2 linked regions of the Homo sapiens genome follow. The protein of the gene in region 2 purifies or fractionates together with the protein of the main gene of each other region. This does not show direct contact. Each region holds a gene or a part of one and is shown on either strand. Other genes may lie near its edges.

Region 1 (3,500 bases), on a different chromosome or scaffold from region 2:
ACTGCTCATTCCCCTATTCCCCCAGCTCTTAGTAAACTCCATTATATTTTTTGTCTGTATAAATTTGCTTCTCCTAGGTGCTTCAAATAGGAGGAATCATACAATATTTACCCTTTTGTATCTTGCTTATTTCACTTAGCATGATGTCGTCAAGGGTCATCATTTCATTCCTTTTTAAGGTTGAATAATATTTGATTGTGTGTACATAACACATTTTGTTTATTCATTTGTTAATTGGAATTTGGGTTGTTTATACCTTCTGGCTATTCTGAATAATGCTGTTATGAACAGTGATGTGCAAGTATCTGTTTGAGTTCCTTCTTTCAATTCTTTTCATGTATATCTAGATATAGGATTTCTGGGTCATATAAAATTATATTTAAAAATTTTTTAGAAGCTGCCATACTGTTTTCTACAGTGACTACATCATTTGACATTCCCTCCAGCAATACACAGGGTTCCAATTTCTCCACATTCTTACCAACACTTGTTATTTTCTGCTTTTTTCTTTGTTTTTATATATATATAATAGCCATTCTAATGTGTATGGAGTCTCATTGTGGTTTTGACTTGCATTTCCCTAATGACTAGTGATATTAAGCATCTTTTCATGTCCTCATTGGCCATTTGTATATCATTTTTGGAGAAATATCTATTCAAGTTCTTTGTCCATTTTTGAACTGGGTTGCTTATTATTTTGCTGTTGAGTTGTAGAAGTTCTTTTATGTTCTGGATATGAATTCCTTATCTGGCATATGATTTGGAAATATTTTCTTCCATCATGTGGGCTGTCTTTTCACTCTCTTGGTAGTGTTCTTTGTTGAATAAATGTTTTTAAATTTGATGAAGTTCAATTTATTTTTCTTTTGTTGCCTATGCTTTGGGTGTACTATCTAAGAAATAATCACCAAATCCAATGTCATGAAGCTTTCATCTTATGTTTTCTTCTAAGAGTTTTATAGTTTTTGTGCTTTTGTTTAGGTCTTTGATCCATTTTTAGTTAATTTTTGTATGTTAATGTAAGATAAGGTTGAACTTCATTCTTTTGCATGTGGATATCCCATTTTCCCAGCACCATTAGTTGAAAAGACTGATCTTTTCCCATTGAATGGTCTTATATGTGAGAGTTAGTTTCTGGGATTTCTGTTTTATTTTACCTCTATATGTCTGTCCTTATGCTAGTACCACACTCTTTTGATTGCTGTAGATTTATGATAAGTTTTGAAATCAGGAAGTATGAGTCTTCCAGCTTTTTTGTTCCTTTTCAAGTCTTTTTCCAATATTAGTAATAAAATATTTTAAGGTACATTCCAAGCAAAGTTTATGTGTTTGTAAACAATATATATCAGGTATGAAGATTTATGCCCGTGACACCCACATTTATATTTTAAGCCTAACCTGACCTGAACTATATACTTGGAACTGCCAACCTGACATCTCCATCATGCTTCTCAACAATAACATCTCAAAACAGAATTCTTAATCTCCTTTTTGAAATTTGTTTCTTCTGGCTTCCACAGCTTAACAAATAGGATCACACACCTTTTCTCTCTTTTATTCACCACTGTCCCTCCCCTCCCCTGACATCAACTCCTTCAGCAAGCTCTCTCTGGTTTTCCTTCAGAACAGAACGGGTCCCAAATATGCCCTTTCATCCTTACTACCCTAGTCCAAGTTATAATCATCAGGTCTCCCCCAACCCCCAACCCAATTTATTATCTTCACAAAAGTCAGGACATCTGAAATCTTACGTTTAAGACGGTGGTCCAAGTATTCTAGTACAATTTTAAACATTTGAATTAATGCAATAATTAAAGATCCAAATGCTAGGGATCCTGTGTGATATCTGCACAAAAATAAAATGAGAATAAGTTAAAACTTAATACTATTATTTAAGGGGATGCTAATTGAATAATTTTCACAAGTAAAAGGTATCTGCAGAAGGATTAACAGCAAAGAGACTTTTGCACTCTCTTATTTAGATTGATAAAAGTCTCTATAGAGGATTTTAAACCATATACATCTGTCTTACCCTTTATCAGCATAAATGACACCAATAGTCTATCATCATAAAATAGGATGTTTTTACTGCTCAATGGAGACACAGAGCCAAGTTAATCCTTGATCTTTCATTTGGTATCCTCCTCTATCTTTTTCTCTCTCTAGTAACCTATAGCATTTAGAAGGAAATTGGCTTGGGTAGGGATTGTAAAACTGGCTATGAAACCAGACAAAACCAATGGGCATCCATGAATTTTGATTCATACCTTTGATTTCATTTGTACCTTGCCACTTGAATTAATGAGCCAAGACTGAATTACAAGCACACTAAATGTAACTGACAAGATAGGTGTAGGCTTCAACTTGAAACTTACCGTATGGCTCGTCCAAATGCAGTAAAAAGTGGATATCGTGGGATGTCATCAGGTTTTTTCATGGCCCAGTAATAAGTAGCGAATGCACCAGCAAGGGCGCACTGACCTAATGCAATGACGAAGTTTATAAGCCAGAGAAAGACAAATAAGTTGTATACATGGAAGGTAGGGATGTACTGATGGTACAAGCTCTTTCCACCATAGAAAGCAAAGTTACACAGAGCCCCAGGGCAAGCTTTGGCAATTTCAGTTGTATTAAAAATCTGCATTGAGAAAAAGGAACACAAGGACATAATATTAAATATCACTCCAAGATAACAACTCCCTGTGTTTTCCTCTTCCCCTTAATTGCATATCCTGTTGTTTCTCTGTTAGCTCCTGCTCTTACTCCTCTATTTTCTGTTATATCACTTTATATAATTATCTAATGAGTGCTGGAAAGTATCCCATTTTTCATCAAATGCTCATAATCTGCACCCACTATAATTTCACATTTATCAGTGTTGTTGTTGACCATACCTACTTTCTATGGTCTTGGGTATATGGTAGGGCAGGCAAGCTCAGGAAATACAGTGCTTTCTCTCCATTCCACCCACTGTTTTCCATACTCTCCTGCTTACCTGATGCACACTCCCCACTTCAGCACATAGTTGTCCCCATCAGTGTATAGGATCTCTGCTTCGGGACAATTCCTACCACAACTACAAAATGAATTGCAGCAGAAGTCTATATTGAAGTAAGTAAATGAAAGAGTTTCTTGTACTTACCTCTGGGTCACAGGTTTGATTTTCATGTATACAATGCCCCCCTGGAGCTATGACTTTGTATACAGGTACCCCCGATGTCGCCAAGAAACTGAATAAACTCCATTAAGGATAAACCATTTGCTGGTAGATTGAAAATAAATGGACAAGAAAACAATACTGACAACTCAAAAGTGCATGAGAAATTAACTTAAAAAATGCCTAATATTTTAATAATATTCATCTATTTTTCAGGCCTAGATTAATGTAATGTGGGCCAGCTGCACTGAGTGGCCCCTTAAAAACAGTAAAATGTATAGGAGCTTTCTTGGCTTATTGCTAAGGAGCAGTATCATGTGGAGACAAAATAAAACAAATCTAC
Region 2 (4,806 bases):
TTTATCTTACTTTATCTGTATATCATTAATAACAATAAAAATATTGCTGCAAAATATATTTCTTAGGAGGATTAATGCAGACCAAGCAACTAGTACAGTGCCTTGTACATACATATGTCAAAAATGATTATAATTATGATTCCCATTCTAATAGTCTTATAATTTTTTCTCTTCAAAACACTTCTGATCTAATTCTATAAAGTGTCTCTTCATCTAGGTTTAGCAATACTTTTATTATCTTATGTCTCTGATGTTATAATAGTTTATTAACTGGCCATTCTACCATTTCTCCTTTTTTTGTCTCTCTTTTCTAATTTATCTCATGGTTTAGCATTTAAAGAAGTGGCTTCTCAGGATAAAGGTATTTCTATAGATGACAAGGAGGAGGAAAAGTAAACAGGTAGGATGCCTAGGGCATAATCTGAATTCTTTAGGTTGGCATTCAAGGACATTTTCATCTTATAGAATAGGTTAGGTGAATACAACACAACTCCTTCCTCTTGTATGGTAAGCTGGTTTAACTAAAACCTTGAGTTATCTTTTATAATTTTGAAGTCTAGAAATGCCCTTTCTTTTGTAGTTGCCCTATAAACTCAATGAAGATATTAAAACCTTGCTAATCTTTCAGAAACAATTTGAACCTTAGCTTGTATCATAAGCTCTCTTTGATTTCTTCAACCAGCTTGGTAAGAAACATGAGCGCCTATTTTACATGACACTTAATATAACTATTTTATTTAGACCTCATAATATCCTACAAAGCAATTATTTTAAATCTTACTCTTAAAAGTGGAGACTAAAACTGCAATTATGACATCTGTACAAAATTCTACAACTAGACCTGGTTGGATCAGTATTAGAATACTGGTAGGTTCAATTGACACCAAAACCCATGTTATTTCTATCTCTCAATGTGGCCTAAAGTATATACTACCATGAGTGGGAGAATAAAGAAAATGTGACTTTCTAAGTCACCTTGGACAATCACTTTTCTCCTTGTATTTTATCATTTTAAAAAATGTGGTTTCTAAGCTGGGAAATATGTATACAAAGGTTTTTTCATTGCCTTTTATATTTTTGTTTACAGTATTCTGTATGTATTTAATAAAGTTATTTCATAAAAAGTAAAACAATCATTTACTAATACAAATGAGGATACGAATAGCATTTCACATACCTCTGAACCATAGAACATAGATTTTGGAGAGACTCTAGACATCATCTAATCCAGCCTCCTCATTTTCTAGATGAAGTGTTTGCAAGGGAGAGAGTGAGGTAGACCATTTGGCCAAAGCTGGGGGAAAGTGTGTGACTGAGTTGCAACTCAGTTATTCTGATTTCCACCTGAATGATTTGAGATGTGAATAGTTGCTTTCCTGGCAGGCAAATTGTGAGTTTTGATAGCACAGACTATGGGGGTGGGCTGCCTGCTGTAGACTCTCGGAAGCTGCTGCACAAAAGCCTTTGCAGAGCATGCTTCACCTCCTTGTTCCGCAAAGTGTAAATGAATGGGTTGAGCATTGGAGTTACGATTGTGTAGAAGACAGCAGGGGCCCCAGCTCCTGCCTCACTGGAGCGAGGCTGCAGGTAGATACAGACAGGTGGCACGTAGTACAGGAGCACCCCAGTGAGCTGGGCAGTGCAGGGGGAGAAGGCCCGCTGCCGGCCCTGGGCTGTGCGGATGCGCAACACAGCTGCCACGATGAAGATGTAGGAAATAACGATGAGGATGAGGCAGCCTGCAGCCACGATGCCAATGCTGGCAAGCATGACTAGCTCATTAATGGTGGTGTCTGTACAGGCGAGCTTTAGGACAGGGGGTATGTCGCAGAAGAAGTAGGCAATGTGGCAAGGCCCACAGTAGAGCAGGCGGAAGGTGAGGGAGGTGTGGATTGCAGCGTGCGTGGCACCTATGGCCCAGGTGATTCCAGCCATTTCTGCACACATCCTTCTGTTCATGGCCACTGGGTAGTGCAGGGGTTGACAGATAGCCAGATAGCGGTCATAGGCCATGACTGTGTACAGGAAGCACTCAGTGCTGGCCAGAAAGTGGAAGCAATAAAGCTGTACGGCACAGCCCTCAAAGGAGATCACCTTCCCATCCAGAGTCAGCAGGCCTGCCATGACCTTGGGCACTGTCACTGTAGACAAACAGGCATCCAGGAAGGAGAGGTGCCCCAGGAAGTGGTACATGGGTAAGCTGAGGTGAGAGTCAGAGCCCACAGTTAGGAGGATGAGGAGATTCCCAGCCACAGTGATGCTGTAGATGAGGAGGAAGAGGAGGAAGAAGAGGCTAGAATGTTTAGCGGTGTACCTCAAACCCTCCAGGAAGAAGTGGCTCACCACAGTCTGGTTGGGGTTCTCCGTTGTCATGGTCATCTTCTCACACACAGAGCGGCTAGTCATCCCCTTTGCAACAAAACTGACATTAATGGAATAAATAGCTGTATCCCTTTCCTGAGATGTCATTATCCATCAAGCCACACCACCTTGGTCTTACCCAGTAAGCAAGAGAAAGATGTACAAGTTCATCTTACAGTTTTGTTCTGCTCTAGTCTAGTGCTTCCTTGCTGTTTATTTCTTCATAATGAATCTTTCAATACAAAATCTGCAGTTTTGGTGAGGTATATAAAGGACTGTAAGAATTATTTGCAGAAATGCACTCCCTAAATAATGACAATAAAAATATGGATTATAAATCCTACTCTCAATGAGTATTTTTTGCAAATATTCCAGAATTGTGATGCCTCTGCCCTCCTACTCTATGTACCCTGCCATGCTGTAGATGTAGAAAGGCAGGTTCTTATTGCTGTGTCATCAGGGAGATGCATCCTATTTTCAGGTGAGACTTGCCTGGAGTTTTGGTGCTATTACATCAGCCAGAAACACAGCAGCCCCACCCATTACTCAACCAGAGGAGTTCTTTGGAATTTCAGTTACCCACAATCCTCAAGTGTGTAACAATTGAGGCTTGGAGAATAGACTGAATAATTATCAGGACAATTTTTTCTATACACTTTGTGTTCTTCCTGTAAAGCTCTGTTTCAAAATTTGGGGAATTGTTTGCCTTTTCCTTTCTTGTTGAGCCTTTCCACTGGACTGTAATTGAGATTTAAAGAGTTCTCTTTGATTCTTCCATCTTTCACCTCGTTAGCCTAACAGATGTTGCATTAGGTGAAAAATTTCCTTAAACTGCTTTTTTTCCGTGTTGTCTCTTCAATTCCTGTGGATTTTACCTAAACCCACCTCTTCATATTTTACACCTAGATTTTCACAATGGTATTTTATGTCCCATCTCTTCCTTACTCCCTGATATACCAAATGATTCAGTATTCAACTTTTTTGTGCCAGTTTTCTTAAAAAAATTCGAATATATCTTTTCTTACTGTTCCTTAGTGCCTGAGATATAAAGTGTATCTCTGTCCTACATTCAGAATTATCTGTAAACTATTTCCATTATCATGAAAAAAATCTTTATCTTCTGCAATCCCCTAAGAAACTCCTGTTATCCAGGGATGCTATTTGCCTCATCTCCTCAATTTGCCATAATCTCTCTCTGATCTTGTCACAGGATCCTTAGGATGTCACTTTTCCAGACAGAAACCTCTGTGGCTGGTGGTTCCTCTGCTTGAGTTTGCTCATGGCTGCTGGGTTCTTTTCACCCACTTGGCCTGGCAGGCTGCACTTGGCTCGTGCTACCAGCCTGGATTCCATGCTTGCCAAGGGTGGGAGAGGCGAGAGGTGTGTGAGTGAGCAAGCACAGGGGTCTGGCCACTGCACACAGCCAGGCACACTTGCTGCTGTGGTGGGATGGGCAGCTCCAGGTGCCAGCAGAGGCACCAGCTTCATGTGAGGCTATAGCTGGACCAGGCATACTGCAAGTGGTTTCCATTATGGGCACCAGCATCTGGACGAGGGGAATATGGGGGCACCCAAAAGCTCAGAGATGCCAGGAACTGCAGAGCCCAAAGAGGGTATTACAGCCTGTCACAGCCCTGGCTCAGGGAGTCCTGAGGTCTGGGCTCCAAGAAGCTCTTCTTTCCTTCTCGTCACCCACAATGCAGCCAATGAGGGGGTGAGTTTGGGGGTTTGTGTTTCAGTCTGTTTGTGTTACAGCCCTTTCAGTCCCACCACCCCACTCTGACCTGCAGCTCCTGGGCTGGCCTGGCCCACCTCTGCTTCCTGTCCCATTGGGTGGCCACCCAGCACTGGCAGAGGGTGGGAGGGCTATAGTGTTACAGCAGCTCTGGCTTGGGGAGTCCCGAGGTCTGGGCCACCAGGAGGGTCACCACTTTTTACTCCCATAGTCCGGGAGCATGTCACCACCCACAGCTTGGCAAATGAGCCAGGAACATGTTACAGCACCTTTAGCTCCCCCTGTTCGGTGGGTCCCAAGTTCTCATCCTGCGTCCAGGAAGAATGAGGATACTAGAGGACAACTAGAGGGTGAGCAAGGTGCAGAGGAGCTTTATTAAGCAAGAAAACAGCTCTCAGGAGACCTGAAGTCAGTAGCTCCTTTCTGCAGGCAGGTCCCCCCAGTGAGTGAGTTTGGCTGCATCTGAGGCTTTTATGTGCTTAGAATGGAGGAAGTGCATGCTGATTGGTCCATGGGTGGCTATAGGTGGGTCTGGAAAAAGCGTCATCCAATTGGCCAAAAGGCGTCAATGAAGTTCTCACTCTGGGTTGTGGACTTTACCCAGAACTGGCACCCCAGACCCCAGGCTCCAGGCTGTCCCTGGCATGAAGGTGGGGTTTCACTGGGGACCCACCCCTCCCACCTAGGAACATGTCTGCCTCCTGCCATCC

The links. Proteins that work in one complex are often made in the same cells at the same time.
Region 1: the proteins of OR10S1 (region 2) and SLC44A5 purify together in Homo sapiens (affinity purification with mass spectrometry; one large-scale study listed by BioGRID and IntAct). This does not show direct contact.

The regions. Positions count from the first base shown.
Region 1 is NC_000001.11:75,216,115-75,219,614, forward strand, and holds part of SLC44A5 (choline transporter-like protein 5), read right to left. Parts: intron 3,231-3,500; coding exon 3,143-3,230; intron 2,639-3,142; coding exon 2,376-2,638; intron 1,847-2,375; coding exon 1,752-1,846; intron 1-1,751.
Region 2 is NC_000011.10:123,975,286-123,980,091, forward strand, and holds OR10S1 (olfactory receptor 10S1), read right to left. Parts: upstream 2,497-4,806; 5' UTR 2,380-2,496; coding exon 1,411-2,379; 3' UTR 1,376-1,410; downstream 1-1,375. UniProt on the Homo sapiens protein: Odorant receptor.